Regions from separate parts of the Homo sapiens genome. Here regions 1 and 2 are each linked to region 3. Evidence: fine-mapped expression QTL. A gene starts in region 3. Each other region holds a variant in brackets. All regions are shown on one strand. Distances are from middle to middle. Region 1 has its middle 50 kb from the start of HS3ST1. Region 2 overlaps HS3ST1 (heparan sulfate-glucosamine 3-sulfotransferase 1). Region 3 holds the start of HS3ST1 (heparan sulfate-glucosamine 3-sulfotransferase 1).

Region 1 (10,418 bases), 48 kb before region 3:
GAGTTAGTAATGGTCAGTGGTGGTAGATGCTTTATCTAGAGAAATGCCTATCATCCAGTCCCATGTTGGGCTGTTGACCAGCCATTTTCTAGGCTGCTTTAAAAATAAAACCATCTTAATTTGTTGTGGCATTATTTTTACTATTTATTAACCAAACCAAACATGCAAATCACTGGAGATTTAGTGATTCAGCAAATGATAATAGAACGCTAAATAACAAGAGTGATGGCGGCACAGGAAATCTCTGCTTTATCTAAGACATTAACTTTTGAAACAAGAAATAACTTAAAAATTAGAAGACTATGTCATGATTTTTACAAGAAAAGGAATAATTAGAAGAGCTATATTTATTACTCCATGTCAAGAATGTGAAATGCTACGTATTTCACATTATTATATTATTTAATCTTCACAACAAAACTTAGAACTATGTAGATTTTATGGATTAAAAAAATGAGGGCAAGAAAGCCAGAGTTCATTCAGTAAAATGATTTTTACGACCTATTCTAGTTTATAAATGAAAAGCAAAAAGCCCCTTCTGCCTTTTCTGGTACAACCATGACCTGTCTCTTGGTTTAACGAATATTTGCATTCCCAAGCAAACATTCTAGGCCTCTTTCCTGATAGAGTTGAGGAAATGATGGTGTCTAGAATAGAGACTTAGTCATAACCACAAGTCACTGTCTACCCAGCCACACGCTTCTCTGGCACATTTGGATTGTGTGATTTTGGACTTAGTTTTCTCCAGTGACAGAAATCTACATCAAACTGACAAAAGCCAGTGGTATTGTTAAGACCCATAACTCCACTGAATAAAGAACTTACTGGAAGCATCTTGTGTCACTTGACAGCTGAATCACCCAACAGGAAATATGTAGGGGTCTGCTGGCTATTAAAAAACTGGAACCAGGGGTTTAGAAATGGTGCCAGGATACCTACTCTATCTCTACCTTTCCTTCGTTCTGTGGTCTCTACATCATACTCTATGGTCTGGCTTCCTCCATGTGGCAGAAAACTTGTCTTCCCATGCCTGGAGAGAAACTGACTCGCATGCATTCTGGTCACAGGTTTAGAAATTGGCTCACCTTATGTTGGGTGCCCATCCCTGGGTCATCACCTAAAGTCAGAGAAATAGCTCTGTTAAGATCGGGGTACCTCCAATGCAAACAACACAAATGAACAGAAAGAGAAAAACATTCCAGAATAGGGGGAATGCTGATCCAACAACACCATTGACATACTGTGGGAGGGCGCTGTGGAGGTTCACAGCCAAGAGGCAAGGGAGAAGCTTCTGGTAAGTCGAACGCAAACATTCCGGTGCTGCATTTTCAAACTCGAAGTAGGTTATTGTCAAGACCTCAGAGCTTGCATGCATTCATTTATTCATTTCTTAGACATTTCCTGTGCTGAACTAGAAGAAAAAACAAGAATAAGATACGATTTCTACCCTCAGCATTTACTGCCTGCGTGGAGAAATAGACAACTATACTAATGATGTCAGCATTGCGAGCCCAGTATATTAACAAAGGCTCATGAAGGGTGGTGTTTTTCATGCTGTATGTTGAGACCCACTGGCAGGTCATTAAATCAATTTACTGGGCTGCAGACAGCACTTTCTAAAGGAATAAAATAGGCCAGAATATATCAGGGTGCGTTATACTGCAGTAAAGATATAAGAGTTTGATAAAACAACTGTGTTCTGATTGCATAGGAGGCTCTGTATATGCAGGTTTGTGTACCAGGTCATGCTGTAAAAGGCATTTCTGACTTCAGGTCATCATCAAAAATCTTTAAATGCCATCAGTATAGTGTGAGTAGGAGCACAGAGGAGAGACATCTAGATGAAATTAGTAGGAGGTAGAAGAGGAAAGGTTTTCAATGAAGAGATCTCATGCTGAAACTTGGAGAAGAAGCAGTCATTCCAAGAGAAAGAACAACTTGTGAAAAAGGCCCTAAGGAGTGAGAAAGGAGGGAAGATTGATAAAGACCTGTGGCTGCAGAGTAGCAGAAGGAGCCTGCAATGGGTCAGGAATAGGGCTTGAGTCCCTCGGTCCGCCAATGCAGGAGGAGGGGCTGATGTTGAAGAATAGGGAAATGGGGCACGTATTTATCATGGAAGGTAGAAAGTAATAATGATAATTAGGATAAAATGCTATGCAGCTTTAGAGTAGTACAAGAATACCGTTCCTTAGAGAACCAGAGAGAGCTTCATTGATGAGGCAACATTTTTGAGTTATCTGCAAATACTTTGAGTTTGGCTCAGGAATCAACTATGTAGTGTTTGTGTGGCTGGCTGTGGTGAATCAGGTAAGGAGAAGAGGCAGACATTCCAAGAAAGTTTGAGAGCCAGATAAAAGGGGGAGCTATCAAATTGGTACACAGCTACCCAAACCAATTGTAGTGCTTCTTTAACTGAGTTCTAGGTACAATGTCAAATAAAGTTTAATTCACTATTTGACATTGTCCTACATGCACAGTAGAGGACTGCATCCATAATCAGGCTGCCAGAACTTAAATCCACCTACTTTCTCTGTGAATTCAGCCTAGCTGCCTAGTCTCTCTGTGCCGGGGCATCCGTATGGCCACAAGTGGTATCTGTGGCAGCCAAGGAAGTGTGCTGCTCAGATTTTCATTTAAGAAAAGACTTGCCTTTTAGTTGCAAGCAGTGTCATTTGCAACCAGGCTTCAGCTGCAGAGTGTTTGGGGTCTACTGCAGATTTCAAGCTGACACTATGATTTGTCAGAAGCCCCTAATCAGGGACAGAGCACAGCAAGAGCATTAGGGATTGGCCATGTTTATCCAAAGTGGGGCTCTGCAAAAATGCCACCTTTTCCCTTGGGTTGGCCAATATCTTATCAGAGCTGTATCAAAATTGGAGGCTAACTCTACCAATCCTGCCTCCCACAGACTCTTCTGTTTCAAGCTATCAGATCTGCTTTGTGGTCTGAAGCCTTTCCTTGTGCAACTCCACTTCCTTCCCCTTTGTCTTTCACAGGCAAAATGTCCCAAGAAGCCTCGTGCCCTCCTAACAGTGTCTGAGCATCTGCTTCCCTGAATGAACACAATACCTAAATGTTGGGCAGCCCTAGGCCTCAGTCCTTGAACTGCTACTCTTTCAACTCTCATTTCCTGGATGAGTCAACTCAGTTTCTAGGGTTTTTAATACCATTCTTATATTAAGCATTGTCAAGTTTGTGTCTCCAGCCTGAGCAGTCAGCTGAACTCCAGACATATATATCCAACCCGTACTTATCATCTGCACTGGATATTTAATAGGAACCTCAGACTTAATGAGTCCAAGTCCGATCTCTTGTTCTTTTATCCCAAATATGTCCCTCCTTCAATCTTAAGCATTTTAGTAGATAGCAACTCCATATTCCTGGTTGCTCAGGGCAAAAACTCTGGTGTCATCCTTGATTTCTCTTGTTCTCTCATAACCCACATCCAATCCATCAGCAAATCCTGTGAGTTCCACATAAAAATACATACTGAACCTGAGCAGTTCTCATCATCTCCACCAATAAAACACTGTTTCAAGTCACCATGCCCTCTTACCTGGATTATTGTAATAGCCTCCTATTTAAACTTCTTAGTTCTTCTCTTTACCCACTCAAGCTATCCTCTTTACAGAAGCCAGAATATCCTTTTAAAATGTAAACCAGATCATTTTCTGCACAAAATCCTCCAACAACATCTGTCACTCAAAATAAAGCCTTAATCCTCAAAATAGCGAACAAGGTCTTACATGATCTGGCCCCTTCTTCACAATTGCTTATTGTTCACTCACTGATTTTAACCACACTGGTTTCGTTGCTATTCCCTAACTACTCCAATATGCTCCCATGTCAGAATTTTGCACATGCTGCTGTCTTTGCCTAAAATATTCTTCCCTAAGATATCTGAGTGGTTCCCTCTCCTATCTCCTTCAGGGTTCTGCTCACATGCACCCTATAAGTGAAGCCTTCTGCTATGTCTGAATGTCTGTGTCCCCCCAAAATGCCTATGCTGAAATCTAATCCCCAAGGTGATGGTATCAGAAGGTGGGAATTTTAGGAGGTGATTAGGTCATGAGGGTGGAGCCCTCATGAATGAGATTAGTGCCTTTATAAAAGAGGCCCCAGAGAGCTGCTTTGTTCCTTCCACCATGTGAGGACAGTGACGATGCCATCATGTGGCAGTGAGAAGGCACTATCTATGACCAGAATGCGAGTCCCTCACCAGACTTCGAATATGCTGGCACCTTCATCTTGGAATCTCCAGCCTCCAGAACAGTTAAAAATAAATGTCTGTTGTTTGTAAGCCACATGGTTTATGGGTTATAATAGCCCAAACAGACTGAGACACTTTCCCTGAACTCTCTATGCAAAATTGTACTCCCTAGAACTCTTTCTCTCTTCTCTACTGACACTTGTTTATAACATTCTTAGTATCTAATAAAATTGGCATTTTCAGTTTTTCTCATTTCTCTCCTCTCCTCTACTAGAATGTAAGTTCCAGGATAACTGATACTTATTTTATTCCCTATTGTATCTCTGATGCTGAGTTCAATATCTTACACGTTATGAACCCAGTAAATGTCAGGTATATAAATTAATAAATTAGGATAAGAGTGCCAACCTGGTGTAGGGGTCATGACTCTCAGATAATTGATGCAAATTACTTAACACAGTGCCCAGCACATAATAAGTACTCAACAACTACGAGCTTGTGTTAACCTTAGTAGTTATTCCTAGTCATGAATATATGTAAGGTAGACATTTAAATGGTAATGTCGATTCTCTGGACAAAACTTGACAGCAATTATTTGGTAGGGGCCCCAGAGTCCAGGCATCTCTCTATGAAATAATTTGTTCAAATTCTTTTACAGAAAACTTTAGGATGAAGCAACCCATGCAGATGAAAGTAACTAAACTTAATCTACAAAATTAGAACTCTAAGTAGTTTATCATATTTTTAACAAATGCATTGTACTATACTACTGTACAGTAGATTTCTAGTGTAAATGCCAATCTCTTCCTCAATAATGTGAGAAACTTTAGCCAGAGATAATTGAAAGACAAGACTCTGGCTTGGTTTGCCTGGATTTCTCCTCTTTCATTGCCTAAGACTGACAACTCTATTTTTTTTAACAGATATTTTCAGTGTCTACCATGTCAATGCAATGTCCTAGGCAAGGGAAATTTAACAGCTAACAAGATGATAGGCTTGGTTCCTACCTTCATAAAGTTTATAGTTTATCAGAGATAGGCTTGGTTCCTACCTTCATAAAGTTTATAGTTTATCAGAGAAGAGGGGCAATTAAAAAGGGAATTAGAGTCAAGAAGCACTATAATAGTGAAAGTTCAGGATACACATGAGAGAAACAACTAACTTAGCTGGAAGCTGGGAAGAAAGACGGGAGAAGATCTGTCTTTGCTTCCCAGCAGAAGTGACATTTGAGAAGATGTGTGAAGTTACCCTGGTAAAATTTTTTACTAGAAGTTATTTTAATATTAGTAATACATGCTTCACACTGGTTCAATAAGGAGCTTGAGTTATTCATGGAGTTTTTCCTTTCATCTTCACAGGTGTACTTTGGAGCAAACTTGCATTGCAATTATTGATTACCACTTTGAATTGTAATTAATTAGAGCTATTAAAAACATATATACATAAATATACATATGCATATATATATGTATACACACACAAACATATGTATGTTTGAGTGTATTTGTAAGCCTTTATAATTTATCCATATAAAATT[G/C]TTTACTTTTATTTTAGGAATAAATAAAATAAAAAATAAAATAAATAAAATAAAACCTTCACTTGTTTTATTTTATATAGATGAAGGTTTGTTATACAGGTAAACTCATGTCATAGGGGTTTGTTATACAGATTATTTAATCACCAAGGTATTAAGCCTAGTACCCAATAGTTATTTTTTCTGCTCCTTTCCTTTTTCCCACCATCCACTCTCAAGTAGACCCTAGTGTCTCTTGTTCCATTCTTTGTATTCATGAGTTCCCACCATTTAGCTTTGACTTATAAGTGAGAACATGTAGTATTTGGTTTTCTGTTCCTGTGTTCATTTGCAGAGGATAATAGTCTCCAGCTCCATTCATGTTTCCACAAAAGATGATATAATCTCATTCTTTTTTATGGCTGCATAGTATTCCATGGTGTATGTGTACCATATTTTATTTATCCAATTTGTTACTGATGGATAAACAATAGGTTGATTCCATGTCTTTGCTCTTGTGAATAGTGCTGCAAAAATATTTGTGTGCATGTGTCTTTATGGTAGAATGATTTGTATTCCTCTGGATATAGACCCAGTAATAAGATTACTGGATCAAACAGTAGTTCTGCTTTTAGATCTCTGAGTAATCACCATACTGCTTTCCACAATGGTTGAACTAATTTACATTCCACCAACAGTGTATAAATGTTCTTTTCCACAATGCTGTCAGCATCTGTTATTTTTTGACATTTTAATAATAGCCATTCTGACTGGTGTGAGATGGTATCTCACTGTGGTTTTGATTTGCATTTATCTTATGATCAGTGATATTGAGCTTTTTTCATATGCTTGTTGGCCACATGTATGTCTTCTTTTGAAAAGTGTCTGTTCATGTCACTTGTCCACTTTTAATTTGGGGTTGTTAGTTTTTCTCTTGTAAATTTGTTTAAGTTTCTTATGGATGCTGGATATTAGACCTTTATCAGACGCATAGTTTGCAAAAATTTTCTCCCATTCTGTAGGTTGTCTGTTTGCTCTGTGGATAGTTTCTTTTGCTTTGAAGAAATACTTAAGTTTAATTACATTCTATTTATCAATTTTTGCTTTTGTTGCAATTGCTTTTGGTGTCTTTGTCATGAAGTCTTTGCCCACTCCTATGTCCAGGATGGTATTGCTTGGGTTGTCTTCCAGGATTTTTATAGTTTTGGGTTTTATGTTTAACTTTTTAATACAACATGAGTTGATTTTTGTATATGGTATAAGGAAGGGGTCCAGTTTCAATCTTCTGCGTATGGCTAGCCAGTTATCTCAGCAACATTTATCGAATAGGGAGTCTGTTCCCTCATTGTTTGTTTTGTCAGCTTTGTCAAAGACCAGGTGGTCGTAGGTGTGCAGCCTTGTGTCTGGGCTCTTTATTCCGTTCTACTGTTCTATGTGCCTGTTTGTGTACCAGTGATATTTTTGTTTTTAAGAAAACTCCTGGCAAAGGAGTTACCTTGGTAAAGAGAGGGTGGCTCCAGGCAGATGAGAAATGTGTAAAAGGGCTTGGAGCCTTGAGAGAACATGAGGCCTCCAAGTCTTAAAAGTTCTGATAGGCATTCTTGAAGGCAAAACAAGGCTCATTTGTTGTGTTGCATGAACAGCTTATCCATAATGAGTAGAGTTTCTCAGAGTCCTATTACTAATTGCAGAACATCCTCAATTTGTCTTTAATAAGTGTTCAAAGTTAACTTCAAATATTAATAAAGAAGTGTTTATTTTTTGACAGTATACTCTGAAAATGTCTGCTAATCACTTTTAAACCCCAGCTAAAATTATTTATCTGTCTTCATGGCCATACAACTCTGCCTCATTCAATTCCATAGTTGGCCTTGAGTTTGAAAATTGACCTTGTTTCTAGGCTGGAGTATGTGCTTATTCTTCCTTCTCTTTATGGGAAAAGTTACTTGCCAGTGGAGACAGAACTGAACATAGATTCTGAAATAGACACAATATGGGAAACTTGATACTTCCTTCCACTACCAAGCCCAAGCAAGGGATGCTGTACAAGGCATTAGGTATCCTCCTTAATCCCGGGAAATACACAGTAAAAAGGAAGAGATAAGGCCTATGTTTGAGTCAGTTCATGCTGCTCTAACAGAATGCCATAGATAAAGTGCCTTAAACAATAGACATTTATTTAGCACAATTCAGGAGGCTGGGGTTCTGAGATCAAAGTGAATGCTTTCCTCTTGGTTTACAGATGGTCATGTTCTCATTGTCATGAGGACACGTCAAAGAGAAAGACTTCTGGTCATTTTTAGCCACTTAAAAGGGCATTAATCCCATACATCTGGGCTCTAGTCTCATGATCTAATTACTCTTCAAAGACTCCACCTCTAAATATCATCACATTGACATTTAGGCTTCAATATATAAATCTTGGGAAAACACAAGCATTCGGTGCATAGCAGAATATAAATATGAAAATAAAATTAACAAAATAGTAAAAATTATAAACTTCCTGAAATGAAGAGGGAATTGCCCAAAGAATGTAACAGGAAATCAAGAGAGAGAATATGAGAGTCTGAAAGAGCACCTCAGAGGAAGAACAATTTAACCTGGGTCATGAGGAAGTAATAGGATTCTGACAGATGTGTAACAGCTGGATAATCCAACATAGAGAGAGAAAAGGTGCCAGGGTGAGGACACAGAGGTGAGAAAGAAAATATAAGTAAAGAGGGACAGAGAAGCCTGCAATTAGTGTTCTGAGGATCGCAAGAGACCCTTGTACCCTTCTCTGTGCTTGCATGTATATTCTCATTCATTCCTTCAAATACGGAATGATTATTAAACGACTAGTTTTTTTTCAAACTTTTAGTAAGATTTTAAATCAAACTAAGAAAAGTATATTTAAAGAGGAAATACATGAATTACAATAATAAGCTATTTTTTAACTAGTTTGAGCTATTTAAGTTTGAAGCTCAAGAAATTACATGTTTAAGTGCCTAAGTAGTCTTCAGTTGACTTTTAATTAACCTCTTTTGCCATTTGTCATCCAGGGAAATTGGAAAATATTTTATAGTCCAACAAAAACTTGTTTTATAAAAGAATTAAGTGAATTTGAGCCACTTATGATAATCTTTCAAAACATCTGATATTTGTAGCTGAATCCGGTCAAATTGTATTTATTCTTTATCAGCCTTAGTTATCTTGGCATCGCTCTCGTATTAATAAGATTCAGACAAAGCCTGGCCTTGCAGTGTAAAAGTGATAGAGAAAATCATTTTCCCTAATCAGGCTGAATCTCATTTGTTGTGATTTTTTTCCTTTAGATTCTGATGTTTGCAGGTGCTTTTTGTGGGAACATTATTTAAAACATATCCTCCTGAGTGTACAACAGCCGCTTCATGAGGATTACTCTTCTATCCTCTTTGCTTGCAGTGGAAGTTTCATTCATTCAGCTTAAACTAAATTTCAATAAAGAAAAGGAAGAGGTTCATTTTTAACACTTATCCCCTTAAATAATAATAACAAGACTATGTTTAATTTGCCTAAAAATAGACATAGAGGTCATGGAATTCAGTTTTCACTTTGATGATGGTAAGGAGAGGCATCTAGCCTCCTTGACCTCCAAAATCAGGAGCTTCTTACACCACCCATGATAACTTGTCACCTAAAAGGATTCACCATTCTATTAGGGTAGGCTAGGTTGTCCTGCAGTAACAAATAAACTTTATAATCATGGTGGCTTAGCCCAACAGAAGTTGATTTCTTTCACACACAGAGTCTAATGCAGTTGGCCTAGGATCCTGGGATGACCCTCCCTCGAGTGACTCAAGGATCCAGGCTTGCATCACCTTATAATATAGCTCCTTAACATGTCACTTCTAAGGTTGCTTCAGCATGGGGACAGAGAGAAGAAAGAAGCAAACCAGATTGCAATTGCTTCAGCCTGGAAGAAACATGTGTCATTGTGCTTACAACTCATTGGCCAGAAAGAGTCACTTGGCCTCAACCTCACTGCAAGGAAGAGTGAGAAGTGAAGGGGAGCACATGGAATGTGAGGTGTGCAACAGCCATCCCTGTCTCAATTACATAGTTAATTAAATTTAGCTCTATACTAAGTCAAATACAGAAGTTCATGGAAAACATGGAATTTTTATCACATCGAAATCACTGCCAAAAAGCAAAGTATGCATTCTTTGGAGACAGAGTACTTTTACAGCCTGCATTGCCATATTTCAGGAATAAGACCATTGGCAGGTCCCACAGACACTCTGAGCCTCAATATCTTCATCTGTAAAGTGGAGAGAATGCTGACATAAGTCAGTTGAGAGCACTATAAGTAATGACTGCAAAGCACCTAATTAAGGGCCTACTAAATATTAGGTATCGAGTTTTAAAACTGGCAATTATAATTATTGTATCTTAATGACAACAATAAAATGGAGATATCATTATCATGGAAAATAATTAATTAATTTTGTTATATTTAATGTATCAAGAATAATGCAATAAATTTTCAAATAAAAGCATCCACGAGACTTCCTAGCTGAGTTCAGAAGCAGTTTTTGACCCTGCATTTAATTTACTGTTAGCAGCAAATATGGTATATTATTACCTTTAGAATTTCTCATTTCAGATGAAAAAAATGAGCTGTTAAAGTAATTGTAAAAATTTTAAAGGGCCTCAGTGAAAGCAGAGAGGAGAGTT
Region 2 (10,418 bases), 34 kb after region 3:
CGCAGTGGCTCATGCCTGTAATCCCAGCACTTTGGGAGGCCGAGGCAGGCAGATCACCTGAGGGTGGGATTTCGAGACCAGCCTGACCAACATAGAGAAAGCCCATCTCTATTAAAAATACAAAATTAGCTGGGCGTGGTGGCACATGCCTGTAATCTCAGCTACTCGGGAGACTGAGGCAGGAAAATCACTTGAACCGGGGAGGCGGAGGTTGCGGTGAGCTGAGATCACACCATTGCACTCCAGCCTGAGCAACAAGAGCAAAACTCCATAAAAAAAAAAAAAAAATGGCGGTGACATCTGCCTTGCCTTCCTACCTTACAGTGTAGGGTTGTAGTGACAATAGCTGAATATAGTATGAGACCACATTATCAATAGTAAAGCTTTGTACAAATGAAGGCTTTTTTGCACTTTGTAGTAATTTCACTTGTTTATCCCTCCAGGCCTATTTCAAATGTTTCCTCCACTGTGAAACCATCCCCAATTATTTTAGGCAAAATGAATGAACATGTGTCTTCATAGTACCCTACCAAAATTACAATCATAACATATATCTCCCTGATGCCTACAGTCAGGCTGCGTCAATTAACTTTTGCCAATTTCCCGCTGCAATACAAACCACTCCAAAACTCAGGGGCTTAAAACCACAATCATGCATCTTCACTCATGAGCTGGGATGGCTCTGTGTGTCTTTCATCCTCCCTCTGGGACCATGGGCTAGCCAGGGCATATTCTTCTCATGGCAAAGCCAATAGTGAAAGAGGGTGAGCAAAAACACACAAGGCCTCTTGCAGCCAGGCTGGGGACTGATACGTTGTCACATCTGCTCATATGCTAGTAGCAAGGCCAATTCAAGAGTTGGACACAAGGTGAAGAATTGGGACTAATCATGCAATCTTTCATACTAATTCACATGCTCTGTTAGATTAGGAGCCCCTGGCTGGAAGAGTGGGGGCAGGAACAAAGCCTGCTTCTATATCACCTGCCCCTTTGCCAGGGACTGGTGAGTAGTAGATATTTTATTGATTTTTGCTGAGTTCCAAAGGGTCTTCCCAACCCTTTCCTTTATAGCAAGGGTTAGCATGCTCTGACTAGGGAGGCAAACCTGGCCTGGTTGTATGCAGCCAGCTAAACATATAAAATGATTGCAAAAAATAACAATAGTAAGAAGGAAAATAATATTTAATGACACGTGAAAATTATATGAAATTCACTCAGTGCCCATAAATAGAGTGTTCTTGGAACACAACCACACCCATTCCCTTGTGTGTTGTCTATGGCTGCATTTCATCTATAATAGCACGGTTGGAGTTGGAGTTGGCATAAAGTATGTCCCCTAAAGCCTAAAATACTTATTCTCTGGACTTTTGCAGAAAATGTTTGCCATCGGCTCCTGTATAGGATAAGAAACTGAGAGTCCTGGGGAGGTGAATATAGGCCTCACTACAGAGTGGCTACAGAGTTGTTAGTTGAATTATCCCTGTATTTGTTATATGTTAATATCTTCCCTTTTTGTTCCCTAGTAATTGAAGGCCTGAAACGCCCATGTGCCACTGACTAGGAGGCTTCCCTGCTGCGGCACTTCATGACCCAGCGGCGCGCGGCCCAGTGAAGCCACCGTGGTGTCCAGCATGGCCGCGCTGCTCCTGGGCGCGGTGCTGCTGGTGGCCCAGCCCCAGCTAGTGCCTTCCCGCCCCGCCGAGCTAGGCCAGCAGGAGCTTCTGCGGAAAGCGGGGACCCTCCAGGATGACGTCCGCGATGGCGTGGCCCCAAACGGCTCTGCCCAGCAGTTGCCGCAGACCATCATCATCGGCGTGCGCAAGGGCGGCACGCGCGCACTGCTGGAGATGCTCAGCCTGCACCCCGACGTGGCGGCCGCGGAGAACGAGGTCCACTTCTTCGACTGGGAGGAGCATTACAGCCACGGCTTGGGCTGGTACCTCAGCCAGATGCCCTTCTCCTGGCCACACCAGCTCACAGTGGAGAAGACCCCCGCGTATTTCACGTCGCCCAAAGTGCCTGAGCGAGTCTACAGCATGAACCCGTCCATCCGGCTGCTGCTCATCCTGCGAGACCCGTCGGAGCGCGTGCTATCTGACTACACCCAAGTGTTCTACAACCACATGCAGAAGCACAAGCCCTACCCGTCCATCGAGGAGTTCCTGGTGCGCGATGGCAGGCTCAATGTGGACTACAAGGCCCTCAACCGCAGCCTCTACCACGTGCACATGCAGAACTGGCTGCGCTTTTTCCCGCTGCGCCACATCCACATTGTGGACGGCGACCGCCTCATCAGGGACCCCTTCCCTGAGATCCAAAAGGTCGAGAGGTTCCTAAAGCTGTCGCCGCAGATCAATGCTTCGAACTTCTACTTTAACAAAACCAAGGGCTTTTACTGCCTGCGGGACAGCGGCCGGGACCGCTGCTTACATGAGTCCAAAGGCCGGGCGCACCCCCAAGTCGATCCCAAACTACTCAATAAACTGCACGAATATTTTCATGAGCCAAATAAGAAGTTCTTCGAGCTTGTTGGCAGAACATTTGACTGGCACTGATTTGCAATAAGCTAAGCTCAGAAACTTTCCTACTGTAAGTTCTGGTGTACATCTGAGGGGAAAAAGAATTTTAAAAAAGCATTTAAGGTATAATTTATTTGTAAAATCCATAAAGTACTTCTGTACAGTATTAGATTCACAATTGCCATATATACTAGTTATATTTTTCTACTTGTTAAATGGAGGGCATTTTGTATTGTTTTTCATGGTTGTTAACATTGTGTAATATGTCTCTATATGAAGGAACTAAACTATTTCACTGAAAAAAAAAAAAAGATTTTTTCTGGAGACGCTATGTTTTTTTGAATATAATTAACTTGCCCCCAACTCAAAATAGCTGTCTGTGTTGCAATCATTGCAAAATCTAAATTCTTTTGTTACTTAAAAAAACATGTTTTTCATGGCTATTACAATCCTCTCTCTCCCCTCTCCTTTCTGCATTGCTCTTTTTAATTTTTAATGTCTCATTGTGATCATCAGATTTATTTTTACTTGGATTGTAAGATTTATCTCCTCGGCGATTCCTTGTCATTTTTGGAGGTCACAGTTTTACTCATTCCCATGTGTAAACTTCAAGTAAACAAAGCAATATTCAGGATGGAGAAGCAGTTAGTGACTGGCTAGAGGTCTCTTGGGATCCATCTTGACCTCAAAGAATATTTGCACATGCTTCTGATCTCAGCAGTTATAATAAAGAGGATTAAACCCTTGGCCTTCAGAATGATCTTGGACCTGGATACTTTGCCCCAGGTGGCAGCTGGCCTCCAGAAAGCCAATTAGAATAGAAAAGAGAAACTGCGAAATCTATGCGTGTCTTCATCCTGTCGGTTCTGTGAAAGGCTGACTAAAAGGGTAGTAGTCTTTTGCTTAGTCTGAAAGTCTGCTTACTTCCTGAAAGACACATTGGCATTATAGACATATATTCCATATGCACTGAGACATAAATATGTGTATGTTTCAAAATCAACTCTAAATTTGGAGTCCTGAATGTGAAAGAAAAAGTAAGTTCCCAAGTGTTGAAGTTAAAAAGAGAAAAGGGCAGAGTTGAAGGTAGCACCTAAGAGAACCACTGTACCTGCCCCCAGAGGAGTGGCTGGAGTTCAGTTTTACTTCTGCCCCTGAGCAGCCAGCTTGTTGGAGATGGTCACATAAACCCTTCTTATCCTCAGTTTTTTCATGCATTCTTCATGCAGTCAGCCTTTTACAGAATTAAACCCATTGGATTTTAATAAAAATAAAACATTCATTACAGTAAAAGAGAAAATACAAACAAGCAAAATAAACCGGCTTCCTGACATGGTTTATACCGCAGGAAAATGACAGAAATGGACGTTATTAATCATCTCCTACACTTAAGAACTCATTGAAATTTCTCCAAGCAACCCCAGGATGCAGATATTATTATGGAAATTTCAAAGAGGAGGAATTAGGCCCAGAGAACATGAGAAACTTGCCCAAGGTCACATTGACTATAAACTCAGGCTTAGAGGCTACTCAGAGCCAAAGCACAGGTTATTTATGTATTTAGTTTTTACCCAACTCTTTCTGAACTCAAAAGGAAAAGCCCAGACTCAGAGCCAGTTCTTCCTGACCTGACTTAACATTTCTTCCCAGGTGCCAAATATCTTCCATCCTAAGAGGTGTGTCCCAGATACAGGAAGGGCAAGAAGAAGCCTGCATTTTTCTCAGCAGTGTTATCAGGGAAGTGAGTCACCTTGGTACGTTTCAGCAGCTCCAGCCTGACCTGACCTTAGCATGGCCTATGCCCCACCCCATATCATGAACAGAGAGCAGAGAGGATGCCTTCCTCTTTAGAATCCATTGAAGTTGTCATTAAGCCATCATCTCCCCCAGAGGAAGTAGCAGAAATATTTACAGCAGGCCCCTGGTGGACATGGTACTTTTCAATAGGCAGAGAGCCTCCCTCTGCAGCACATCGTTGGATCTTGCTTTTACCATACTCCTTGAAGAGCTGAAGAAATAAGAGGGCCCAGCAAGGTTAAGTCAAGTTTCCAAGCCTGTTCAGGAATATGGTGACTGAAAGGAAACTGCAATGAGAGTCTCTGACTGAAGAAGATGCTCTTTGCAAACTGCCTGTAAATTCCTGTCCCCTGACAGGGATGGTCTGGTAGAAGCATGAACTGTGGATGCAAGAGGCAGCGGGGAGGAGTGGAGGAAGACAGGACCAGCACATGGAATATAATCTAGCTGCTGGGACTGGCATAGTCGATGGAGGCGGTGGTCCAGTGTAAAATGATCAGTGAATGTAAATTCAATATGTTTTCATTTGGGGGTGCAGAGTCGTGGCTAAAGGAATGTTCAAATGAGTCTACCATGAGCAAGGGATCAGAGGTCCTAGTGGCACTATCTGTTCATTCATTTTTGGTACAACCCCAGCCAGTCATTGAGAAGGTACACTGTGTAAGAAACCATCACTCCAGACTTACCCAAGGTATTTATTGCTAGATCTCACCAAGCACTGTCAAATTCAAAGGAGGCCCTGTAGTAGACCCTGGGCTGTCCTTACAGGGCCAAAATGCAGTGACTCAGGAGCCTAATAGCACCCGGTCCCTCCAAAACATGCCTTCTACCAATTCCATTAACAGAGACAGGTGTCAGTGGAAGGGGTGGGTCTCCTGTCCAGACCACCCCGGCCCGGGAGCAGCCTGGGGGATCTAGGTGGGTCCTTCCAGAGAGGCAAGTGAGAACAACTGAACCAAGCCTCAGCTATTAGATTTGGAATATTCACACACTTGACACTCCAGAGTCAGAACAGCCCCTTCCCTTTCCCTTCCTCCTGGAATCAGATAGGGTTGAAATCCTTTTAACACCATTTGGTTATCAGCTCACAACCTGAAGGTTTGCAAGTTTAGGAAAAGTGACATGCCTCTGAGCACAGGGTGCTTTACTCCTTCTGTGCTTGGAGGCTTACCCAACTGAAAGGAGATGGAGGGCAGGAGAGGCCGATGCCTAGCGTGCCTGCTGCTTACAGGGGTGGTGTCACAGGTCACCATTATTCATTAAAATTT[TA/A]CTTTTTTGATCCCCTACCACATGCTCAACATGGTATTGAGTCCTCAAGAATATAAAAAGAAAATACAACAGGAACCAGTAGTCATTAACTGTTTGTTCTGGACTTTAATAAAAGTACAGAGGGTCTTGGAGTACAAAGGCAAAGACATTTAGCTGTGTATAGAATGGGTGGGGGAATGTGTTCCATGGTTTGGCATTCAGTTCAGCAACATTCCTGAGAGAAATCAACTAGCCCCCTTATAGAGAAGAGGAAACTGAGATTTAAAAAGTGGTCCTGGCCGGGTGTAGTGGCTCACGCCTGTAATCCCAGCACTTTGGGAGGCCAAGACAGGTGAATCACGAGGTCAGGAGTTCAAGACCAGCCTGACCAACATGGTGAAACCCCATCTCTACTAAAAATACAAAAATGTGCCAGGCATGGTGGCGAGTGCCTGTAATCCCAGCTACTCAGGACACTGAGGCAAGAGAACCACTTGAACCTGGCAGGTGGAGGTTGCAGGGGGCCGAGATGATGCCACTGCACTCCAGCCTGGGCAACAGAGCAAGACTCCATCTCAAAAAAAAAAAAAAAAAAAAAAGATAAATTAATAATAAAAAAATAAAAAAGTAATCCTGACTTCAAGTCATTTTTTTCAGAAGAAAGGATTCTTGCTCACTCCAGGGAAATAGTCCAGAAATGGAAAATGTTGACATCACAAATCACAAAAGAAGGTGAAAAATATCAGAGACCCTCTCCAGAATGTCATTTCTCAGAAATATTAAGAAATAGAGAATCTTCCCAGAGGTCGCATGTCAGGGCAGGTCACTTAACTTGTGGGCCACAGAGACCCTGACCTTCCTGTGGGAAGGCTTCATGGAGGAATTGCCATAAAGCTGGGGCACGCACGAATGGCAGTAGTGTCACCAGAGCAGGGCATTCTGAACAAGGGAAGCTTGAGACATGAAGACAGTGGTCACGGGGAGAGGCTGGGGGTAGAGGGTAGAGGTAGGCAAGAGATTTGTCTGAGTGGCATGTCAAATGTGTTAAACTCAATGAGAAGCTACTGCTTTCCAAGGCTGGAGTGTTGGAAGCTTACTTAGCAGGCACCCATGTGAATTTGGCTCCTGTGCAGGTGTATCTGTTGCATAAAAATAGCTATCATTTGTTGCACACCTGCCATGTGCTTGGTATTTTAAATATATTGCTTCTAACCTATATAACAACCCTAGGAAGTAGAAAATGGGCTACTAATTTTACAGAAAAATAAACTCAGAAATTAAAGGGCTTGCCCATGTTGATAGAGCCATTACTTCTTACAAATGAAATTTTGTCTCCGATGTCTCTGCTCCTTTTCAGTCCATCTATTTGTGGGTAAGTGGAGGAAGATATAAAGCATATGCATCTGTCTATTAGGCAGAGCCTGTAAGGGAAATTATGGGCATCTAGGATTTGGAGTTGGACAGTTAGGGTGATATCAAGATTACCTTCAAGCAAAGCAGTGGCTGGGATTTGATGCAACAGGGACGTGATAAAACATGCTCCTAACCGGCAGCAGCTCATTTCGGAAGACTGAGCCTGAGTTAAAGGCCAGAGCAACATAACAGAGTTCTCCAAACAGCACACAGTGAGAGAAGGCCAAAGCTAAAGAGGACATCATCGGATTTAGCTGCTTCACTAAAGTGTTTTGATGTAGAAAATGACCTTGGTGCTTTAGTTATCCCTGATGTCAAGACCTTTACTCTATTTTGCCCAAATTTCTCAGTTAGATAACAGCAAAGAGAGAGAGCCAGAAGACCTGGGTGTGCATCCTAGCTGTACCAATCACTGACCATGGGATCTTAGATTCAGACTCTGAGAACCTCCATTTCCTTCTCCATAAAAATGGGCAGATATGTACTGTACTCTGTTGGGGGAAAACTCCAACTCAATGAGATAAAGTAGGTAAAAACTATAAACCCAGTGCATATGTTACTTAGTGGTTAAAAACATTTGGGACTTTAGGAGACAGACCAAAACTGGTTTTGAACCAGTCGGCAGAAATGCGCTGCCTTTTTTCCTCCTCTGCTTCCCAGCTATGTGACTGTAGCTATTGCTGTTAATGCTCCATCCAGAGCTCATTTACCAGGGAAGTGCTCTCAACCCCAGCTGCCACAAAGATTGTCTTCTGTACTATTTTCTGAAGGATTTCTCTTAGTTGGCAGGAGTTTTCTTACCTGAAGATGCCTGAGAAATGTTGTCCACCCCACTCCCCTGCTTTCCTAGGGTTAGGGCATGACTAATGATTGACTGACCCATGTGGGATGGGGCATGGGGGTAGTAGGGTAACAGTCCACCCTCATTGCCTCCAGGCAGGACAACCTCTGGTGCAACTCATGCTCAGAGCTCCTCGTGAGATCAGGCTGAGGCTAGACTTCTCCTGAAACTGTACTTTTACTTATTTCTTCCGAAACTTCATCCTTTTCCCACATTACCTTACTCATTTCTTCTGCTACCCTATTCTCAGTAAATGTGTTTCCCAAGAAAACAGGAATCCCCCCTCAGACTTTGCTTCTAGACCATCCACTCTAAAGTCTTAACCTTGCATGCATGTTTTCTTCTCTCTGTATTTTACATGTATAACGTGATCAACCCACGGAGTTATTAGAATTCTTCCAATTAAATGAGATATAGCAGAGAATGAGTCTATTTTATTGGCTAGCAAATAGCAAAGTGTTAAATTCAATAATGGCTGAAATTGTTACCAAGTAGTAGGCTCTTTTATTAGCTTATCGGACTACCAAAATAGTATAATGCATCAATATCAAACTTAAATTTCAACTTCATAAAACAATTCTGGGCCCAACAAATATGAAGGTATTGCTCCATCTTATGTAGCAACATCTTGTATTTCTATTGTTTGATAAATATTCCACTTAGAACTAATACATGGATGTCTCTTTCTTTTGATTGCAACCCTCTGGCACTTAACACAGTGCCTGGTACATGGTAAGTAAGGAGTATTAATACTTGTTTGTGGATTGAAGGGTAACTCTAGACTAGTTGTCAGTTTTACGCGAAAGCCCCTTCTACCACATCGCAGCCTCATGATCTGGCCCGCCTCCTGGAAGTAGCCTTTCTGGCCCAGACACTGGTAGGTACTTTAAAATAAGCTGTTTTATGTAATCTTCACAAACCTCAGGGGAAATAATCAATTCAAGCTTCCTGTGTTTGTTTACCATTAGATCCACATCAAATAGTAACCATACTTGACATAGGAGCTATAAATATTTATTAATCGAACAGATCACCCTAATACCCAAGCTCTTTTCACTATGCCTTACTATATGACCTCTTCTTGAATATTGAACCAATGAATAGTTCTCCAAGGTAACCCATTATATCTCCAAACTGGCTATTGAAATTCATACTTACTGTACCTCGACCTACATCCCCCAGCTTTCTCTCATGCATCTGAGTTCTACCACACAGTGCCATAATGAACAGGTCTAATACCACTTTCTCATGTTGGCATACTGAAAAGAGCGCTGACCTCGGATTCTGAAGACATGAATTTAGAAGTTTATCTCAGCCTTTTTCACAGCTATGTGACCTTGGGCAATTTCCTTAACTTCTCTGAACTTCCAGTACCTTTCTGTAAAATAGGGATAATTATACCTTCTTCACAGAGATTCTATGAACAATTTATGGAAAATGGACAATGGACATATAAGAGATCACAATTTCATAAACTCTCCAAATATGTAAAAGTGAGTCTTTCTAATTCCTAGTTAGCTCTCATGGCTGGTATCATCTTCGACAGAAAGTAAAGGAATAACACTCATGTGTTTATTAAAACCTAGGTATTATATCATTTAACCTTCATATCAACCTATGAGACAAATGCTACTGTTTCGCTTCTTTTATATATGGATGGGGAACCAAAGCACAGAGACATTAAGTAATTTGCCTAAGGTCACATGGCTAGTAAATAGTAGAGCCAGATTTATCTCCTGCGTGTTCTCTTCATAAATAAAATGCTTTACCTCTAGGTTATAATGCTGTCAATGCAAAAGAGAATCTCTTCTACAACATGTTTGTTCATAAAAAGAGCTAGAACACAAAGAAGGCAAAGATAGAGACCAGAAACTTAATATAAATATCAGCAAAAAAGGCTGTGGCAGGCAGAATTCTAGAATGGCTCCCTTGGTTTCCACCCACTTGTGTACAAACCCTGCATAGACCCCTCGCCTTGAATATGAGCAGAAGTTATAAATAAGATGAGTCACTTACTCTCTTGGTTAGAGTACTTTATATGGCAAAGGTGATGGGCTATAATGACATTGTGTTATGTAAGACTCCAACTTAGCACACTGGGGAGATTCTTCTACTGGCTTTGAAGGCATCACCTGCCATGCTGTGAGAGGCCTTTGAGAGGGCCATGTAGCAAGGGACTGCAGTGTCCAGTAGTAGCTGAGAGTGTCCCCAGCCAATATCCAACAAGAAAGCAAAGATCTCAATATTCCAGTTTCAAAGACTAAATTTTTGCAACAACACGTGAGCTTGAAAGAGGGCCCCAAGCTCTGGATAAGAAAGTCATCTGTCTGAAATCTTGATCGCTGCTTGGGAAGGCCACAGCAGAGGTAGGATGTGATTGGACTCCTATCATAGGGAAGTTGAGAGAATAGGTGTATATTGGTTTAAGCTGCTAAGTTTGTAGTAATTTGTTAGGTAATAGGTAATTAATTCAAAGTGTAATTCTATTATCTAGTCTATTCATCTTGCCTCATGCTCACTTTTCTGTATGCTCCCTTGAAAACAAACGAAATGTATGGATTTTTGTTACCCAAGGAATGCATTTCCATTGTATATTAACC
Region 3 (10,418 bases):
TGCTGGATGGAGACTAACAGCTAAAGAATTAAGTGATGCTGGAATGAATGTGTGACCCTTGACAAAAAAGCTGATCTGAAACACCACATAAAGTCAAGGGCCTCAATGTGAGATAAAGTTTGCTGGAAACTGCATCTCTATAATAGCTTTTATATTTAAAGGATGATTATATGTGGGGAGAGAAAAATAATTACACTGAGAACTGAGCTTTTAAGCATAGCATTTTCCTTTGTCAATTAGTTGACTCAGGGCAATTAAAACAATATCATGAATGTAGGATTTAAATACCTTACGGATAGTTAAATTCCTGGAATGTAAGTACATGTTGAAGGTATGAAGAACTCAGATCTCTTCTTCATTTGAAGAAATGATGTAAAATATAGTGGAGTCCTCTTTCTAGTTTTATGAAATATATATGTGCAGGTAGAGAATGGGAGAGAATGCTATCATGAGACAGGAAGAAAGCATGGAACTTGACTTTGACCTGTTTCTAAATCCAACATGGCTAGTTGCAAGCTGGAACATACAACCTTCAAGAAGTTACTTCTCTGTACGTAAAATTAGGGGAAAGGAAAGGAGAATGTTCAAATCTCCCAGCATACAGCTACTCAATAAATGCCATGTTTTTATTTGCCTCTTCATTTCTCTTTCTTGTTTCCCATACCATCTAGTAGATTTTTCTGAGATTGCACAAAATAGTTATTTTTCCTTAGTTTACAGAACTTACTTTACAATAATCATTATGGTGCATATATTGAAATAACCTAACTTGATTAAATATGAAAGCTTTTTTTTTTAATTTAAGAACTAACTGCTGGTACATATACACCATGGAATACTATGCAGCCATAAAAAGGAATGAGATCATGTCCTTTGCAGAGACATGGTTGGAGCTGGAAGCCAATATCCTCCACAGACTAACACAGGAACAGAAAGCCAAACGTCACATGTTCTCACTTATAAGTGGGAGCTGAACAATGAGAACTCATGGACACAGGGAGGGGAACAACACACACTGTGGCCTGTCAAGGGGGTGGAGGGAGGGAGAACATCAGGAAAAATAGCTAATGCATGTGGGGCTTAATACCTAGGTGATGGGTCGACAGGTGCAGCAAACCACCATGGCACATGTTTACCTACATGACAAACCTGCATGTCATGTCCTGCACAGGTATCCTGGAACTTAAAAGAAAATTAAATTAATTTTTGTTAAAAAGAACTAATTGCCTAAGCTTCAAAGCATTCTACAAAATATTTATTTCCACCACAAAGCAGATTAATATATATATAGCCAGTTCTTATAAGTGTCATTGTAAACATTTCCAAAAGAACAGTGTTCCAAAGTCTATGGAAAGAGAACTCTACCATTGTGTAAGAGACTTCTTGTGGCATTAGTGCTATTTTAAATCTAGAATTAAAACAAGGCTTTGAAAGGAAAAGCCAGCACCATCAGTTTTCAGGGACAATAGGGACATACTCTAGAGGACTTCAGTGAGGACTCCAAGACAGAAGAGAGCTGCTAGAAACAGCATGTGCTGATTGAAGTTGAGAGTTCAGAGTAAGAGGTAAGGGTCTGAGAGTCACAGTTCAAATGCTCCTTGGACCTTCTATTACAAATGGAACTAGGGACTCATGAGAATGATTAGATTGAATTGTAATTTTTCTGTTAATGCACATCTGTGAGCTCCTAAGTAAGGGATTGAATTTCATTCTTCTTAATAAATCTCTACCCATGTACCTAGCACACAGGCTGCTATATGGGAGGTACCTAATACATATTGATTCAACTGAACTGATAGGCCTGCCAGGAGGAAAACTTTTTTTTTTCTGAAGAGTGTGAGGTTCCCAGTATCCTTGAATAAGGCCTAAAAGAGCAAATCATTAAGACCGACTCATCAAAAGATCAGCCAGCTTTGGTCCCAAAATCTAAAATCAAAGAGAGTGCCACAATTTTCCATCGCCCTGAAGGTATTCCAGCACTCAGCAGGGGCCAGTAATTTGAACAAGGGGACCACTTCAAGCCTGCAATACTGCAATTTTTCTAACACTGATGTGTGTAATTTTGGCCACAGTTTAACACAGGATAACAAATAAAAGCAATATTCTATTTGTCTATAGTTGTTTACATAACACCATAGACTATAAGCTTTTTTATGAAATTGTATTTACTGTGCATACTTTACCTAAATTAACTAAGCATTCCTCCTCTGCAATATCATCTGCACAGGGCTAAATTCTCCATTAGAAGTCTTAGGCACACTGCCCAGAGCTTATGGTACCTTGAGGGCTTCCCAAAAATGATTTAATTTCTTCTAAAAATCAGAAAAAGATAAACTTTTAGATTAAAGAAGATATTTAAATAAAGAAGAAAATATACTCACCTTTATACTAATGTAATCATAAGATATAATTTTAACTTGGCAAGGCAGGGAGCAGGATTCATAAAGGAAAACATCATAAAAGTCATAACTGGACCTCATAACCACATATGCCAAGATGTGTCAAATTTGGTGTCATAAAGTAGATAATCTTAAAAATCCTGTTTTCAGAAAAGAATCACTCAATTTGTCATAGATGGATGGATTGTTGTTACATACACAGAGACAAAATTGGGCGTTGGGACGGGATGGTTGGGGAGGCATGAGATGGGTGAGCTGAGTTGGAAGGAACAACAATCCTCCATGTTTTATGGCTGTGACCCTCATTTCCCCTCTCACTAGCGGACTGCTCTAGCTAATTAGCAAATCAAAAGAAATAGAAACAATTCTAGACCTCAGCACAATCAAATTAGTGGAGTTATTCGAGGATATCATTTTCACACAGTGCAATCATGCTCTCTTTGTTTTGGTCAAACGAGTGAAAATTATCTTTCAAACCCAACGCCCTTCCCTCTACCCAACTGGCTCTGTGGATAGTGGCATTTCCTATCTGCTCTCATAAGTTTTACAGATGATCTTTTTCTATTAAGACAGGAATGTGCAATGCACAATTAAACAATACCCAACAAGCTTCCCTTTTAAAAATACATTTGACTTTTAAGGTGATTCAGCAGTAAGAGCCATTAGTACCTCATCTAAATCAGGACTTGGAAAGTTTATTAAAATTGGATTTTTAACCTGATCCCAATTTCCTTTGTGGATAAAGAGTCCCACTGGAGTCTTTAATATTCATGCTATTAACCTGAAAGATTCAAACAGCCATGATGGGAAGAAAGGCTATACAGGGCTGCCCACTAGACTGGGGGTTACAAATAAAACCCCATTGAGTCTGAGCAGGTAGACTACTGTGGATTCTGGACATCTTCAAAAGAAGCAACTTCTCTCTTTTTCTCTCTCTCCCCTTTTCCTGACCTCCCGTCTCCTATTACATATTTTGTGGGAAAGAGAAAAACCAGAAAAATAGCAAACATAAGCATATTACTTAATTACATAGAGCACTAGACTAGGAGTCTAGTTTTTACTGGAAGGGTAGCTTCCTCCTCTAGTGCTCTAATGAAATCCCTCAATTATAAAATAGGGAAGTCTGGGCTAATAATCTCTAATATTGGTTGAGAAGATGCACTTTGGAGTCAGGTGAGAACTCTTTGAATATCAGCCCTACCACTTATTAGTATGTCACCTTGAACGAGTCACTAAACTCTCCTAAACCTCCGTTTCCCCATTTGTAAAATGAACAAAAGGTGCAGCTCCTATGATTCATTTTGCATAGTACCTGGCACTATAAGCCTTAGATACACTTTAGCTGGTATTATTACTGATTATTGCCCAAACTCATAGGTCAGTTGCTTTTGTTTCTATTTCATGCCTTTTCACTCCTTGAGCCTTTATCTTCTTTAGAACAGTTTACAACTGTGTTAACTCATGTCTGTGCGTGTCTGTAAAGGTAGGCTAGGAGTGTTTGCCTTGTTTTTCCTTGAGATAAGATTTTATGCTCTCTTAGGGCAATGGAGATATCTTATTTTTTCATCTCTCTCTTAGTAACTGGCATAGTGTTGTACACATACTAGGTGCTCAATAAAGACTTCGAGATCTTAAAATATTAGCAGTACAGAGATCTTCCACTAAAACCCTCTCATTTTTCAGTTGTTGGAACTGATAAAAAGAGTCTTGGGCCACACAACTGACTGACAGACACTTTTGCAGTCAACTACTACTGTGTCTCCTAACAGCCTCTATTCTCATGCCCACGGCTTTGAAAGGGAAACATGTTTGACTTAAACCCTGACTCCTTGAGGGAAGTTCCATTTACAAAGTTTTTTTTTTTTTTTTTTAAGAGCATAGTATGTTTCAGATACCATGCAGGATTGTAGGATTCTGGGATTCAGATACCATGGAGGATTCATCATTAAATCACGATACCCAAGCTCAAGGCGTTTATAATCTATTAGAGAAGACAGATCCCTAAATAGATGTTTCAATAATGTGATTGTGTTGTCATAGGAGAGCTAAGCTCTGGCACTACATGAGCTTCTGGATAAGAAACCTAACTCATGACCAGAAGACTTCAGGGAGAGCTATTTAGGAGCAGTGGCAAATGCCTGGACATACACATAAAACTAAGTAAGAACAAAATAGCCAGTTGGTGTTTTTATTTATCTGAATGTAAGAACATAGATTATCGATCAATGAACAATTGCTCAGATTTAAAAAGAAATGAGGAAAACTAAAATGTTAGTCCTCAAATTCCTGTCACTTCCCACATGTGCCCTGCAGTCATTTCCTGCAAATGGAAACTTCCAACAAAATCTCTGGGCTGGAGACCTGGGGTTCCAGTTTCTTTCAAGGTCTTGTGGTAGGGAACTAAGTGGGTGAGTAACCTGCCTTTGGCTTCCAGGGTGCAAACAGAATCATTGCTAACCCCCTTTGTGTCTCACAATGGGTAATGAAATTCATACTATGGCACCAAAGCACTTTGAGCTCTTTAGAAAAAGTAATCATACCAACTTAGAGCATTAAAACCACCCCGTATTTTGAAGGACTCATGATCTGCACTGTGCTTGGCTGCTGGTGGAAGCTTAAAGACACCAGTAATTGGCAGAACTTTATCTTAGACTTCCATTTGACCCTCACAACCTCACACATGATTTTACACAGCTTCCTATAATGGGGGAGAAAAGCCCTTCTTTTAAATCTAATGTTAGTTTAAATGCTAAGGCTTTCAAAGTGGGCCTTTAAAGTCACTTTTTAGAATTTGTATTTTTTTTTAACCTAAAATAGACATGCCAACATTATTCTGACTAAAAGAAGTAGACAAGGTCATTCAACTCCTAAAAGCTTATTTTCCAAAAGCACAGTTAGGTCTCAGCTTTCAGGGTGCTTCTGGCTGTATCAAAAAGACAGAATATACTGGTCACTGTGTTGTTTTCTGAAAGTGCCGAGGGTAATCTGTGTATGAGTTAAAGGGCCAATTTCCTATAGGAACCTTCTCTTAGATGGGATTTTTTTTTAATTAAACAATGTTGGTGAAATATATTTAAACGTAAATCACAAATTCGAAGTCTTCCAAATATTTATTTACTAATGTGGAAGACATGGAAACTACAGTAATCTCATTTAAAGGAAGTTACTTTGATGTGCATTTGCTTTTGGCGGGGTATGATTGCTGACCTGCCTTTGAGGGCAACTTCCTTTGGCTCAGGTAAGCAGGCAAACCCGTTTCTCCAAGGCGATTCCAACCCCACGCCCCTCAAAACCTTAAATCTTAAATTGAGTTATTGGGTGCAGGTCCTTTCTCCCACAGAACCTCCCAGCTTCCGGAATAGAGGAGCGGGGCAGAAATATCCTGCTTTTTATTTCAGAGCTGACGTTTGCAATCCTAGTGCACTAGCGGAAAAAAAAAAAAAAAAAAAAAAAAAAAAAAGCTGAATTTTCCGCGCTCTCCTGGCAAATTGGCGTCCGCTCTCCGACGCTAAACCAAAGGAAAAGGAGTGTTCAATGGCGACAGGGCGCTCTTTGAAGCCGGCTCCTCACGCGGATTCTGGCCCAGGCCGCCGCTCCGGTCCCAGTCCGGCTGCAGAGCGAATTGGAGAGGATGGCACCTCCTGCTTCCCGGGGGGCGGAAGGAGCGCCAGCGCCTAAGGTGGGTCACCTGCCAGGAAGGGAATACGCATGGTGCAGACTCACGTGGGAGGAGCACAGGTCCCGGGTACAAGTGCCGAGCTGGCGACTTAGAGAAGAGGTAGACTCGGGCTCAGACCAAGCAGGCGTAAGGGAGTAGACGGGACGTCCCGTGTTTGCAGTGACGGCGGAGTCACCCATCCCAGCAGCCTCACCTTCTTGGAGCGCTGGTCCCTCCCCTTGGACTGAAACCCCAGGGGCCACCGCACCGGGTGGGCGGGACCGACTACTACCCGACCAGCCGCTGGAGCTGCGTGCCAGGCGGGGCTGTGCGGAGCAGCTGAGCGCAGAGCGGAGCACCAGGCACCTAGCGGGCCGGACTCTGGGCGGCACCCGAGCGGGCCGGGCAGCAGTGGGCGCTCGCGATCCTCCTCTGCCCAACGCGCTCTCCCTCCGGGCCCGGCCTCCTCCGTCCCCTCCTTTTGCTCCCGCTCCTCCTCCCGCTCCTCCCCCTCCTCGGGATTGAGCACCAAAACGCCCGCCTGCAAGGTCCTCTGCGCCCTGGCAGCCAGGAGTCGCCGCCACGACAGCCGGGTCTCAGTGGGTGCCTGCGCCTTCTCCCCGCCCGCCTGCCCCGGGCCATCCAGAAACTTGCTCTACCCGCCGCGGGTGCTCGGCAGTGCTGCCCATGGCCCAGCCTAGGAGCCTATTTAGGGCGCCGGACGGGCTGGACAGAGGCGCGGCTCAGGTGAGTGCGGCGCGCGCGGGGTGGGAGAGTGGCAGGACGCAGGTGTAGAGGGCTCCGAGGTGCCTTTGTCTGGCGTTCTGGACTTCGGGCAAGTGCAGAACCTAAGAAGAATCGAGGCTGGAGCAGGTGGAGTGGATGCAGAGGGAACCAGGAAGCAAAGGCTGGGGATTTTCCCATCCTCCTCACCTCCTGCCCTAGCACCTCTGCTCTGGAAGTCCCGAGGGACCGGTTGATCTGTAAGGACAGGGACCCAGATTTCTGACTCTTACTGGGTTGGATGTTTTCCCCCCCTGCAGAGTCGTGAGGTTCGCTCCTGCCGGCCGCTTCGCGACCGCAGCTTCACCATAGGACCCTGTAGGGCAGCGAGAGCGCAGCACTCAACGGATCCTGGGTACCACCTGGGGCCAGAAACTGGGGCGAGGACACAGCCCGCAAAAGTAACTCGGCTGAGGGAGCCTTTGGGGGTGGAGAAGCCTTGGTCGGGTTTGCCTTTGCATTTGGTTGGAGATAGGCATCTCCCAAAGAGAGAGATTGAGGTGACAGCCCTGACAATAAACCTCTCATCCCTAATGCCAATTACATGAGGGTCTTGATTTTTTTCTTGTTACTTTTTACTGATTTTTTTCCCCCTTCGTGGTTTTCTATTTCCGGGCCCTTGGGTAGTGGCAGCGGATGGAGGTGAGGGATGGCGGGGTGCGAACCCGCGGTTGGAACGCCTAGACCCCAGCTCCCAGGAAGGGTCTTATTCGCGGAGCTTGACCTCTCCAGGTGCGCTCTACCAGCCAGGGGGCGGACGGCGCGCTGCTCCTCCTTCTAGCCCCAGCCTGTCCCAGGAAGCGGAGGACAGACCCAGAACGTAGGCGGATGATGGGAAGAAGAAGCTGGAGCCAAAGCCGGGTGCCGGCGCGGGATGGGGTGTGCTGGGCTCTGCAGTTATAGGTCTATAACTCTGCAGTTATAGGCGCTATAGGTCTTCCATCTCTTTCCCTCCCCTGGGAGCCAGCGATTCCTCGCACACTCAGGGCGCTCTCTTGGGCCAAGGGTTGCATCCTCCCTCTTCCTCCTCCTTTGCAGATCCAGTGGTACCCTTGCCTCGCCTTGCGCGAGTCTCGCTCCTCCCTTTCCCACAATGTTATCATGAGCTATTTTTATCTACAACTTGTGCCAAGATGCTTTTGGGGGGATTCTAGGGAGGCCACTCCAAATCCACTGTCTTTGCGCTGCGCTCCGAGAAACAGTCTCCTGTTAGCATGGAGCAGCCTCAAGGAGTGGCGGGGAGGGTGGCCGAGAACGGAAGGAGCCAGTCCGCCCTCTTCTCCTCCCTCAGCCCTAGCCCCGGAGGGAAACCCCGCCACCACCAGCTCGGCTGCGCCTCCCGCCAGTAGCCCCGGAAGAGGGTCCCCAGACGAGTCCCCACGCTCCCGCTTTCAGGCGCTGGGTGCTTGGACACTGCTGAGGCAGCAGCCTGGCACAGGCAGGATCCTTCATTCCCACCCGTGCGTTCTCGCTTTGCAGGCAAATCTCATTTTATTTTGTTGAAATGCTTCCACCCAAGGGTTAATTCCAGGAATTCCATCTTTAAAAAAAAAAGAAAAAAAAAGGAGGGAGAAATAACCCAACTTCTGCCTCCCTGCATTTCTAAAGCAAAGCGCATCCTTTGACGTTCGGATTTTTTTCTTGCTTTCTGCATTCCTGGTAATATTGGGTAACACTGGGTGCAATTAGAATAAGCCTTACCTACTGAAATTCCAGGAGACGCGCGCTCCGCTGCAAATCCCTGCCTTACCCTTCCCGTTGTACATCCAGCGCTTAGATTTTCCCCCACAGGATTGCAGAAATAACATATTGAAATGGACCATTGTGTTACATAAGGTTTTCTCCAGCGCTAAGCAGAGAAAGAACAGCTTCTAAAAGAGTCTTTCCAGGTTTTGGTTAGCCCATCTAACTCTTTCAGCTGAGTTTGACAGGGATGGACAACTTCATGACTAAGCACTCTTAAGTGGAAGCAGTTAATTACAACAGCAGCATAGATGAAGATTCCTTAGTGAGGCTTATTAAGCTGTGCTTCTAGACTGTGGATCCTCTGTGATGCCACAGGGTATACAATGCTCTGTAGTTTTAAGATAGGAGATTTTTGTTCTGAGAAGCTGGTGAGAAATTGGCATCTTGAGATGGCATCGGAAAAAGCAAAGGGTTCTTTACTTTCCTGTGGTTATGTCTAGAATGAAGCCTCAAGCCCCCCCCCTGGGTCCCCCTAAAAGTTGGAGCATGTACTTTTCTTATTAAAATAAGAAATTATTTTACTGGAAAAATCTTGTGAGGGTTGGGGGGGGGGCCTCTGAAGGGAAAAGCCACATGGAAGCTTCTCTTGCCTTGAATTGAAACTCGATGGTGACTAGGAAGGGGCTAGAAAGATGGCCTGGGTGGTGTAAATTGCTTCACTCATGCACACTGCCTTTCTGAGAACATAGCAGCTACCCACAATGGCATATCCCCACCGTGGTTGCTAAATCATGTCTGTCTATGGGGGCTAAAGTTTGGAGGAAGGCACAGTAAGATGTATCTGGTGTCCTGATGAAATTGAGCCTGTAGGCTGGGTCAGTGCTCAGGCACCAGGTTTCCGGGCCTGCATCTAAGCCTGGGTCCCTGTGTTAGAGACAGTTGTTGCAGGAGAGTGGTAACTTTTTAGCAGCTTCCAGGGAAATGCAGTAACTTTCCAGCTAGTGCTGGAAAATATCAGGGCTATTCCCAGTTTTTTTCCCCTCAACCTGGCTACTTGACCTGGTGCTTTCAATTGAGGCTGCTCTTTTCTTATGGCAGAAGGCAGGAGAGTGCTAGCTGGATTTAAAGCCAACTTCTTGCCCCATGACCTTGGGCAACAATTTCTCCCTCCCTGACCCTAAATTTCTTCCTCTGCAAAACAGTGATGAAAAGATTATTATAAGAAAGTGAGAAAATGTATATGAAATGCATCTTGCCGATTGGAGAACACTTGTGCAATTGTAAAGGGTAAAAAATACAAAAAATTAAGTTTTATCGTAGATCTATTTTAATGTTCATTTTAATCATAGTTTGCATATGTCTGAGTAAATGACATATGCTAAACATTAAGTGGGAGAGATTTCTTTTAATTGGCCAGTCTCTTCTTGTGATCACTCCACCTGAATGCTACAAGCACCGGGCCTCACTACTTCTCAGAATGATTCCTTTCTTGTTTTCAGGATCACAGTCAATTTTTAGAGTGTTTTTCCTTTTAACATAATACACATTACATGTCTTAAGAAAATCTGTTTGAAGAGAGGGCCCTGATGTTAATTAATAATTTTTTTAAAAAAGGAGAAAAGTCACAAATGGGGAGTGACTCCACTGGGGAAAAGTAAAACATGACCAGTGTCACGAGATGACCCGGGTCCCCCTTGTCTGAATCTTTCATCAGCATAATGCACTGGCTCCTCATCATTGCATTTTAGGTGTTGTTCCAAACGTGTCTCCAGAACCTAACTCAGTGCCTGCCTGGCACTTAGACATTCAATAAGTATATTTGGAATAATTGAATGAGTGATTGGACTGAATCTTCACAGCAACCTTGGAGAGCAGATGGCGTCATTTCTATT

The links. PIP is the estimated chance that this variant, and not a neighbour inherited with it, causes the effect. A credible set is the group of variants that fine-mapping cannot tell apart.
Region 1: its variant is the best candidate, but not a certain one, in a credible set for the expression of HS3ST1 in esophagus mucosa (GTEx, PIP 0.51).
Region 2: its variant is the best candidate, but not a certain one, in a credible set for the expression of HS3ST1 in cerebellar hemisphere (GTEx, PIP 0.75).

The regions. Positions count from the first base shown.
Region 1 is chr4:11,473,514-11,483,931 of GRCh38, reverse strand. No RefSeq gene overlaps it. Among named protein-coding and RNA genes, the nearest start is that of HS3ST1, 50 kb to the right of the region's middle. The variant G/C (reference allele first, on the strand shown) is at 5,748.
Region 2 is chr4:11,391,219-11,401,636 of GRCh38, reverse strand. It overlaps HS3ST1 (heparan sulfate-glucosamine 3-sulfotransferase 1), which reads left to right. Exons shown (of 2, transcript NM_005114.4): 2 at 1,524-8,487. The coding sequence starts at 1,632. The coding sequence ends at 2,555. Among named protein-coding and RNA genes, the nearest start is that of MIR572, 28 kb to the right of the region's middle. RefSeq lists an enhancer at 3,653-4,852. The variant TA/A (reference allele first, on the strand shown) is at 5,585.
Region 3 is chr4:11,425,085-11,435,502 of GRCh38, reverse strand. HS3ST1 (heparan sulfate-glucosamine 3-sulfotransferase 1) reads left to right here and starts at 6,609. Exons shown (of 2, transcript NM_005114.4): 1 at 6,609-6,804. RefSeq lists a silencer at 6,464-6,643 and an enhancer at 6,734-6,953.